Regions from separate parts of the Homo sapiens genome. Here region 1 is linked to region 2. Evidence: fine-mapped expression QTL. A gene starts in region 2. The other region holds a variant in brackets. All regions are shown on one strand. Distances are from middle to middle. Region 1 overlaps CPNE9 (copine family member 9). Region 2 holds the start of CAMK1 (calcium/calmodulin dependent protein kinase I).

Region 1 (5,369 bases), 59 kb before region 2:
TAGAAACAGGGGGCCTCATTGTGTTTTTCAGGCTGGTCTTGAACTCCTGACATCAAGTAGTCCTCCTGCCTTGGCCTCCCAAAGTGCTGGGATTATAGGCATGAGCCACTGAGCCCGGCCTTAGATGTTAACTTTAAAGCCATGCTATTAGATGAGATCACCAAAGGAGGGGAGGAAGGACGGGAGAAAAAGAGAGAAAGAGGGAGACGAGAGAGAGAGAACCAAAGGCCAAGGCTCCACAAATTGGACCTAGAAAAGAAGACTGAGAAGGAGCAATTAATGAAGTAGGAGAAGAACCAAGAGAGGGTGATGTCATGGAAGCAAAGAGAAGGGTTATCAAGAAGGAGAGAGTTACCAACCACATCAAATGCTGCTACAGCTCAAATAAGATGAAGATTGGGAATTGGCCATTGCATTTAGCAAGATGAAAATCCCTGTTGACTCTTAAGCACAGTTTTGAAGGAGAGGTGGAGGTGAAGACAATGGAAGAGCGGGAAAGGAGTCAAGGAATCTTTTTTTTGAGACGGAGTCTCGCTCTGTCACCCAGCTGGAGTGCAGTGGGGAGATCTCGGCTCACTGCAAGCTCCGCCTCCCGGGTTCACGCCATTCTCCTGCCTCAGCCTCCGGAGTAGCTGGGACTACAGGCACCCGCCACCATGCCCGGCTAATTTTTTTTGTATTTTTAGTAGAGATGGGGTTTCACCGTGTTAGCCAGGTTGGTCTCGATCTCCTGACCTCATGATCCGCCCGCCTCGGCCTCCCAAAGTACTGGGATTACAGGCGTGAGCCACCGCACCCGGCCCAAGTCAAGGAAACTTTCAAGGAGTTTTACAGCAAAGGGGAGAAAAGAAAAGATGTGTGACCAGGGGCGGTGGTTCACACCTGTAATCCCAGCACTTTGGGAGGCCGAGGTGGGTGGCTCACTTGAGGTCCAGAGTTCCAGACCAGCCTGGCCAAAATAGTGAAATCCCATCTCTACTAAAAATACAAAAAACTTAGCTGGGAGTGGTGGCGCACGCTTGTAATCCCAGCTACTCAGAAGGCTGAGGCAGTAAAATCGCCTGAACCCGGGAGGCGGAGGTTGCAGTGAGCCGAGATCACGCTACTGCACTCCAGCCTGGGCAACAGAGGGAGACTCCATCTCAAAAAAAAAAAAACAAAGAAAAAAGAAAGAAAAGAAAAGAAAAAGAGATGTGGCTGAAGCAGGAAGAGAGGTCAAGAATAAGTTTATAATTTTTTTTTTTTTTTTTGAGACAGAGTCTCACTCTGTCGCCCAGGCTGGAGTGCAGTGGTGTGGTGTGATCTTGGCCCACTGCAACCTCTGCTGCCCGGGTTCAAGCGATTCTCCTGCCTCAGCCTCCCGAGTAGCTTGGATTACAGGCGCCTGCCACCGCGCCCAGCCAATTTTTGTAGTTTTTAGTAGAGACGGGGTTTCGCCACCGTGGCCAGGCTGGTCTTGAACGCCTTACCTCGTGATCCACCCACCTTGGCCTCCCAAAGTGCTGGGATTACAGACGTGAGCTGCCACGCCTAGCCAAGTTTATAATTTTTTAACATAAGGCTGGGTGAGGTGGCTCACACCTGTAATCCGAGCACTTTAGGAGGCCGAGGCCTCCTAAAGGTGGAGGCAGGTGTATCACCTGAGGTCAGGAGTTCAAGACCAGCCTGGCCAACATGGCGAAACTCTGTCTCTACTAAAAATACAAAAATTAACTGGGCATGGTGGAGCGTGCCTGTAATCCCAGCTACTAGGGAGGATGAGGCAGGAGAATCACTTGAACCCAGGTGGCAAAGGTTGCAGTGAGCCGAGATCACACCATTGCACTCCAGCCTGGGCGACAAAGCAAGACTCCATCTCAAAAAAAAAAAAAAAAGAAAAAAAAAATTTAACATGAGATAAATTATACTACATTGGCCGGGCATAGTGTAATCCCAGCTACTCTGGAGGCTGAGGTGAGAGAATCACTTGAGCCCAGTTCAGGATCAGCCTGGGCAACATAGTGAGACTCCATCTCTACAAAAAAAAAGGGAAAATTATACTACATTTACATATTGATGGGAATGACCAAGTAGAAACTGAAAACTTGATGTAATAAAAAGAGGTGAGCATTACTGAAGTGATGTTCTCGTGCAGACAAGACAGTATGAAATATAGTACACAGTGGAGGGATAAATAGGCACAAAGACACTTCATTTATAGCAACTGTAGGAGTCACACTTGTGTGGGTGAAGATACTGGTGGCAAGGTAGGTGTGGTGGTGGGTGGACATTCTCTTCTGGTTGCTTCAATTTTGTTCAGTGAGTAGGAAACAAGGTCATTGGCTGAGAATGAGGATGGGGGAGGAGGCTTTAGGGGTTGAGGAGAAAGAAGGAGTGAAACTGCCATCTACCAGAACTGGAGAGTGAAGGGCCTTGGGATGTACAGTATGACTCTGAGGTAGCAATAAGGACCCTCTTGAAGTCTGCATCATGCATTTGAAATGAGACAAGTTCGCATAATTGTGTTTTTGTCTGGCC[A/G]TGTTCAGTTTCACAGGTGCAGTGTGGGTTAGGCAGAGTGAGGCTTAACTAGAGCTGTGGTTCTGCCAAGTAAATATATCGAAAGTGAGAGAAAAGATTGGGCCAGTGGCTCACGCCTGTAATCAAAGCACTTTGGGAGGCTGAGGCAGGAGGATCTCTTGAGGCCAGGAGTTCAAGACCAGTCTGGGTAACATAGCCAGACCTTGTCTCTAAAAAAGTAAAAATTTTAAAATTAGCCAGGTGTAGTGTGTGCACTTGTAGTCTCGGCTACTTGAGAGGCTGATGTGGGAGGATCTCTTGAGTCCAGGAATTTGAGGCTGCAGTGAGCTATGATTGTGCCACTGTACTCCAGCCTGGGTAATAGTGAGACCCCAACTCTTAAAAAAAAGTGAGAGAAGGGAAAAAAGAGACAGGATGCAAGGGAATGATTATTATAATCACTGACTGGAATTCACACTGGATGGATGAGGTGGTAAGGGAGAACATCAAAGAGGCAAAGAACAGTGAGGAGGCAACAGGATCAACAATTTGTTGGTCCTGGATGTGCAAGCGAATTATTTATTTATTTTTTTGAGACAGAGTCTTACTCTGTCACCCAGGCTGGAGTGCAAGGGCTTGATCTCAGCTCACTGCAAACTCTGCTTCCCGGGTTCAAGCGATTCTCCTCCCTCAGCCTCCCGAGTAGCTGGCATTACAGGCGCCCGCCACCACGCCCAGCTAATTTTTTCTTTTTTTTTTTTGCAGTTTTAGAAGAGATGGGGTTTCACCATGTTGGTCAGGCTGGTCTCGAGCTCCCGACCTCAGGTGATCCGCCCGCCTAGGCCTCCCAAAGTGCTGGGATTATAGGCGTGAGCCATCGCGCCCAGCCGTAGGCGAATAGAACCTATTCTCATCACACTCCCTCTTTGCAAAGCACAAAGAGTCAAAGATCAAAGGAGCCAAAGAAATAGTTCAACTCTCATTCTAAGGATAGGGAAAATCACATAGCAAGTTAGAGCCAGGACTGGAACCCAGGACCCTCCTGACCTAGTTTTCTCTCTGCCACATTTTGGATCCCTTTGGGAATCAGGGTTCACAGGCCCCTATCAACAAGGTCTCTTACTGCTGGGGATGGGGGTTCTCGTATGCACCATTCAAGCACATGGAAGTGTTCCTTCTAGGGTCAGGAAAGGATAAAGTTTCCCTTGTCTTTTAAATCTCCCTCTCCATGGTCTTCAGAAAGCACATCAGCTTTGACCTAACAAGCTAGCCCTTTTGTCCCTGGGTCTGGACAGAAATTCTTCTCCCTCATTCAGTATCACTACAATCCACTCTACTTACCTATTGGCATTGACATTCCACCTACCCCCGCCCCCAAAGCTCCCTGCGGGCAGTCTAGCAGAGCCGGAGAGAGCCAGTTGCCCAATTCATATCTATCACAGCACCCAGCATATAGTAAGAACCAGAGTCAGCTTTGAAGACTACAACCAGCTCATATCTATAAGGCTTACGAGTTGCTTTTCCTTCCATGCACTCATTCAGATCTGTTCACAGCCCTGACAAGTCATCATGATTCCCATTTCATAGAGAAAAAGACTAAGGCCGAGGAAGGGTAAATAACTTGCCCAGGGTCACACAGCTTAACAATCATAAAATCCACTGGCTCTAAATCCCATGTCTTTCTCATGCTACTGTTGTGAGATGTTCACCTAAGCTGTTCTAACCCCTTTTCACCAGACTGCAGACCCCACCCAGTCAAAGTGAGGCCCTTCCTCACCAGAAGGCACTCAAGACACAAGGGACTGTCAGTAAATGGCAAACTGAATCCCCTGGCCCACCTAACCCCAGACTGGCCACTCAATCCTTGTTGCCTACCCTCCCTCCTCTCACTAAGAGGCTTTTTCTGCTTCCAGGGGTGTACCAGGCAAGAAGTGTGGGACCATATTGCTGACTGCAGAAGAGCTTAGCAATTGTCGGGTCAGTAAGGGCCACATGCTAGACCCAGGAGCTCCCTTCTCTCCCCGTAAACCCTTTAATGGACTGTCTGAAGGCTATGGACAATTGGGGTGCCACCAGCCCAACTTCATCCATCCCTAGGACATTGCCACCATGCAGCTGTGTGCAAACAAGCTGGACAAGAAGGACTTCTTTGGGAAATCAGACCCCTTCCTTGTGTTCTACAGGAGCAATGAGGATGGCACGTGAGTCACTGCCATCAGGGCTGTTAGGCTGGGGTGGGCCATGTGCTTAACAAGTGGGGGAATCTCAGGAATCTCTGAGAGCATCTGGATTCAGTCCTACCCCGGGCACGAGATAAATTATACCAATTCTTCCCACTCCCCTCCAGGTTCACCATCTGCCACAAGACAGAGGTTGTGAAAAACACGCTGAATCCTGTGTGGCAGCCCTTCAGCATCCCTGTGCGGGCTCTGTGCAATGGAGACTATGACAGGTTGGCTCCAGCATAAGCTGGGGAGTAAGGAGCCAAGGACATGCCAGTGTGGTTCCTGGGCCCAAGAATGATAGTAGAAGTATCATAATAGCGTTGGAGGGTCCTGCTCAGTGAGACAGAGTTTGGGGCATGAGGTTGGGTGGATGGACAGGCAGATGGATAGCCACACAGATGGATAGGTGGACTATCCAGGGATGGATCGACTGATGGATGGAATGGTAGGTGGATGGGTAGATGAAAAGGCAGATGAACAAATGAATAAGCAGATACATGGATGGATCGTTGGATGGGTAAACTGGTGAATGGTTGGATATGTATGTGGATGGATATATGAGTGAATTGATGGGTGGGTAGAGGGGCAGATAAATGAATGGACAGCAGAAGAATGGATAATTGGACTGATGGGTGGGTTTGTGGATAT
Region 2 (5,369 bases):
TTGTTTATGCTATTCCTTCTGCCTGGAATGTCCTTCTTCCTCTCTGACAAGTGCACACCTACCCATCCTTCAGTCCCCAGCTCTAATGCCCCATTCTCCAGGAAGTTTTCCCCCAGGCAGAAGGCACAGCTCTCTCTGGGCTCCACAAAGCCCTCAATCCCAACCTTAATTGGAGCACAGCACACACCCTGTTGTCATTTTCTGTAGGTCTGTCTCTTGCACATGTCTGGGATCAACTTGAAGGGCAGAGACCAGGTTTGAGTTATTTCTGCATTCCCAGCACCAAGAACAGAGCCATCTCCAGCCTCAGTTCCCAAACCTAGGCTAGAACACTTAGCTCTTGGCAGCAAGTTAAATGGACTGACTGGCACCTTCATTCTCTCGACTTCTTTCTCTTCAAGAACCCAGGGCTATTGGGAGAGCAGCCCGTGTCCCACCCACTGTCATCCAGAAGTGAAAAGCTGGGGACAGTTTAGGCCCTAGATAGTGCTGCCACAGGGCCTGGGCTGTGGGAAACAGGAAGCATTAATTGACCAGAGGAAGCCCCACCCTGGACTCAGCCTCCCTCAGCCATCCAGCACCCAATCCTGCCCTGGACTCACGTGCCCAGAACATCTCGGAAGTCGTAGATGTCTCTAATGTCCTCCGCCTGCTTCCACCTGGGGCCTTCCACTGCCCCCAGCATGGCCCACTGCCCCCCGACCACAGCCAGGGCTCCTGTAAGGAGAATGGAAGGAGGAGACTCAGCAGAGCCCAGCCCTCTGTCTGGGAATTTACTGCAGGCCCCATTCAGTCATTCAACCTGCATTTATTCATCCTTGATTCATCCATTTGACAAAATCATTCAACAAACATTCATTTGTTTATTCAACATTCAGCAAATTCTCATGCCTAGAGAAAAACCTTTCACAGTGGCAGCAAAATTCTTTATTTAACAAAGTCATGCATTCATTCATTCATTTATTCTAGTTCTCTTCCCAGTTTTCCCCCTATCCAAATCCAAGCACCTAGGGAAACCCTGACTTCTGGCAGTACAACAGATAAACCCCCAGAGCAGCTGGTAGAAGCCTGGAGGATCCCCCTGTCCCCAGAACCAGTGATGTCCCCGCCCCACCCTGGGGATTGCTGGGGTGTCTCCTTTCCCTCCTCCTTCCCCCGACTCCCCGGCCTCTCCGAAATCAGGTTTCCAGCAGCCTGGGCTTCCAGCAACATCTCAGCCACATTTTTAAATAGCTCTTTCTGCACTGTTACCACAGCAACAACAGCCACAGCTGGAGCTCCCCAGACCTCTCCCTCCTGACTCCCCATCTGGGTCCCGGGAGCATGAGAAATGGTCCTGCTCACTCTGTCCCTTCCTGGCCCCATCTAACCCTATCCAGCCTGGCCCTTCCTCTGCTGAGGTCTGTCTCATCCAGCAGGAGAGGGTGGGAGTTCTCTCCCATTTATCAGATGAAGAATGGGGAGACTGAGGTTGGAGTTAGGTAGAGGCTGGCTCCAGAGGCCCTAATGACACCTGGCCTGGGGCCCCCAGCTAAGCTTGCTGAGGGCAAAGGCCATCGAATGGCCTTGGCTGGTACTTCCAATATGAAGCCAGAATGGGCCCCATTCAGAGAACACAGCCTCCCAACCCATCCACAGATGAGGCCAAAACAGAGCCCAGCATGCTTTGTGACCTCAGGGAGAGCACTTTCCTTCTCTCTTTTTCTCTAAGGGAGAATGAGGAGAAGGTGCCCTGACTAGGGCCTCTGGTGTGAGATTCCACTCCTGGAACAGGACCTTTTTCCCAGGGGACCCTGCCCACCCATCCAGGGGCAGAATCTTCTAGGAAAGGAGACTCGAGTGTAAGCTCTAGAGGCAGAGTCTGAAACCCACATGGAGGCCTACCAAATACAACCCTCACAGATCCACACACATCCCTGTAGCAGACATGCCACACCAAGCCCCCTCCACAGCCCTGAACTCAAACACCTGCCTCCCAGATCCAGTACGCCTTGTATCCACATCCCGTGACACCTGATCATACATGTACTCCCAGACATCAGCACACATGTCCACACCACACAGTGCCCCAGACAGCCCTGCACCCGAACACCTGCCTGTCCATCCAAACATCCCTCACCCAGCTCCCTCTTACACCCCAAAACACACATCCACCCGCACCCACACAAGATGACACCCAGACACACACACACACACCCTCATATACCAGACGTACCCTACACCCTCCAGCTCCTCTACCCCATCCCCTGGAAGCTCCTGTATTCCAAACCAAACCCCAAGTCCTTACACACCTAACTCCAAACATCCTCAGTACACAATTGTACACCCCCTCCTAACTCTGACTTAAGACCCTGAGAGCCAAATACCAGCACACAAAACACGTGGACACCCCTCTGGAACAAAAAACACACAGATTCCCAGATCCTCCACCCATGTCTGACCCACACGCCTGTCCTAAGACAGTACACTCCGCAAGCCCCCCCACCCCATGGATACCTCCAAATGCCCACGCCCTTCCAGTCAGGCCCAGCTGAAGGCGCTCACACAGGCCCCCTTCTCTATTACCCACTCAGTGTCCCATAGGCCCGCCTGGCACCTGCTGGGCCTGGGACAGAGGTGGAGAAAGGCCCAGCCCTGCCCCTCAGGGTCCAGCCCGCCCGGGAGAGTGCCCAGTGGCCACTCCTTGGGAAAGGATACCCAGAGGCTAGGGGCTCCCACCGCCCCCACGCAGCGCCCAGGGGTGCAGGGATGGGGGGCCCGGCTGTACCTGCGGCTGCCCCGCCGCGGGGCTGGCTGGGAGGCCCGCGGTGGTTGGCGCCGAGCTGTGGCCGCGGTCCTCACCGCTGCGTGCCTGGGCCACCCGCCCGCGCTCTTGCTGGAGCTGGGGCTCGGCTCGGCTCGGCGGCTCTCTCCGCCCGCCTGCGGCTCTGATGTCAGTGGAGGTGGAGCCTGCGGCGGAGGGACCCGGGATTGGGAGGCGAGGCACCGCTCCAAGGCTGGGGAAGGGGCACGGGTGGAGGCCATCTCCCTGCTTCTGGTCAGAGATCTCCTGCTGGACGCTTCCCGCCCTTGGTCTTAAGCGGGGTCCATTTCACAGAGGGGACAACTGAGGCCCGGAGAGATGATTTTCAAATCAGCGGGTGGTCGGAAGCAAAGCAGGATTCGAACCCCGTCTGTCTGAAGCTAGAGGCCGGCCAAACTCACCCTGTGGCCTGGTGGATTTTCTTTCAGACCAGTTCTGCGACCTCCCTTAGGGCTCTGTCTCCCTTCTCCGTGCCCTGAAGGGAAACAGGCCCTGGAACTGCACGGGAGTCTGGTGGGGGATGGGGGAGTGAGGGAGTGGGGAAGGACCGGGCAAGACTAGGCAATGAAGAGAGTGGAGGTGGTCGCAGGGTGTGGGCCCCACTTGACAGGTGGGAAGACTGAGGCCCCGGTTCCTCTGCAAGATGGAGCTGAGGCTTCAGCCCCAGACACTTGCTCCTCAGAGCGGGTGGTGGTGCCTAGAGGTATTGGGGGCAGAGGGAATTGGGGAGGAGGAAGTTAAATCGGGATCCTGAAGGAAACAGGCCAAAAAGGACCGAGGTGTCACGTGACTGGCGGGGCTCCAGAGTTTGATGGCTGGGGTCCAGGTTAGGGGAGAGAGCCTGCAACTAGGACGGCAGGCAAGAGGCCAAAGGTCGGTTTGCTCAAGGCCTTCCTTGGGAAGAAATTTGGTGCCGAGTGGAAAGAGGGGGCGGGGGGAGCAACTCGCAGGAATTGGGGATGGGGCTGAACTGGGGGCAGCCGGAGGAGGCACGTTGCTTGGGACCCCACTCCACCTCCAAGGGCCTCCAAGTGCCACTCCCTACTCCTGAATTCTTGCATGTTCCAGCTGGTGATGGGGAGAGAACAGTGCTTATGCCCAGCTCATTTCCTTTTTCTCTTTCTTTCTTTCTTTTTTCTTTCTTTCTCTTCTTCTTTTTTTCTTTTTCTTTTTTTTTTAAGACAGGGTCTTGCTCTGTCACCCAGGCTGGAGTGCAATGGCATGATCACGGCCCACTGCAGCCTCAAACTCCTGGGCTCAAGTCATCTTCCTACCTCAGCCTCCCATGTAGATGGGACTACAGGTGCGTGCCACCACACCTGGCTTTTTTATTTTTTGTAGAGATGGGGATCTCACTATATTGCCCAGGCTGGTCTCAAACTCCTGGGCTCAAGCAATCCTCCCCAATCAGCTTCCCAAGGTTCTGGAATTACAGGCATGAGCCACTGCACCTGGCCAATTTATTATGCCCATCTTACAGATGAGAGAGGAAGATAGCTGAGGTTCCTGGAAAGGCTTTGGAGTCTAACTGATCCTGGTCATGCTTTACCTCTCCGAACCTCAGTTTCTTACTCGGGAACATGGGAATATTGAAGATTGACTCAGAGTTCTGAGAATTCTATGATATAATGATATGAAGTGCCTAGAACACTATTCAAAACATGAGAGCTAGACTCAGTGTAAACTGAGACTCAGAGAGAGGACTTGATTTGGCCAGGGATGAGGGGTTAAGGGATCCATCTTCCAAATCTCAGTATCTCAGACTCCTTAGTTCATGGAAAAATACATTTCCTGCTCAGGGCTGAGCCCCCACTCTCCCCTATACCCACCAAGCACACCCACTGAGCTAGGGGTTCTTTTACCACAAATTCCTGTTCATCTTGATGACAACACCCCCTGGGTGATAAGATGACCTCTGTCCTTTCGAGGACTTGTACAACTTCTTTTTTTTTTTTTTTTTTTTTTTTTTGAGACAGTCTCCCTCTGTTGCCCAGGCTGGAGTGCAATGGTGCCATCTCGCCTCACTGCAACCTCCGCCTCCTGGGTTCAAGCAATTCTCCTGCCTCAGCCTCCCAAGTATCTGGGACTACAGGCGTGAACCAACACGCCCAACTAATTTTTGTATTTTTAGTAGAGATGGGGGTTTCACCATGTTGGTCAGGCTGGTCTCGAACTCCTGACCTCAGGTGATCCACCTGCCTCAGCCTCCCAAAGTGCTGGAATTACAGGCATGAGCTACCGCGCCCAGCTGACTTGTACAGCTTCTATGGTGTGCTTTACATTTTTCCTGCTTTTGAGCATTTCTGAGAGGCCTCGTGTTTTCTTTTCTTTAACAAACACATTATCTTTACTTTCTTAGTATTTCTATTGAACAAGTGATACATGGTCATTGCAGGAAAATTCCATAATGTATTGAAAACACACACAGACTAACTGATGAGATTCTTTCGCTTCCCAAGTGACAGAATGCCAACCTAAACCAGCTTCATCCAAGAGGAATCTATAGTTCACAATAGCTGGCACAAGATTGCAGGAAAAACACCAGAGATTAGGGGCTTGGAGACTG

The links. PIP is the estimated chance that this variant, and not a neighbour inherited with it, causes the effect.
Region 1: its variant is the best candidate, but not a certain one, in a credible set for the expression of CAMK1 in whole blood (INTERVAL, PIP 0.64).

Annotation. Positions count from the first base shown.
Region 1 is chr3:9,708,132-9,713,500 of GRCh38, forward strand. It overlaps CPNE9 (copine family member 9), which reads left to right. Exons shown (of 21, transcript NM_153635.3): 8 at 4,410-4,473; 9 at 4,594-4,697; 10 at 4,844-4,948. Among named protein-coding and RNA genes, the nearest start is that of CPNE9, 7.0 kb to the left of the region's middle. The variant A/G (reference allele first, on the strand shown) is at 2,518.
Region 2 is chr3:9,767,065-9,772,433 of GRCh38, forward strand. It overlaps CAMK1 (calcium/calmodulin dependent protein kinase I), which reads right to left and starts at 2,883. Exons shown (of 12, transcript NM_003656.5): 1 at 2,768-2,883; 2 at 603-717. The coding sequence starts at 685. It also overlaps a transcript of OGG1 not described here. RefSeq lists a silencer at 2,654-2,833.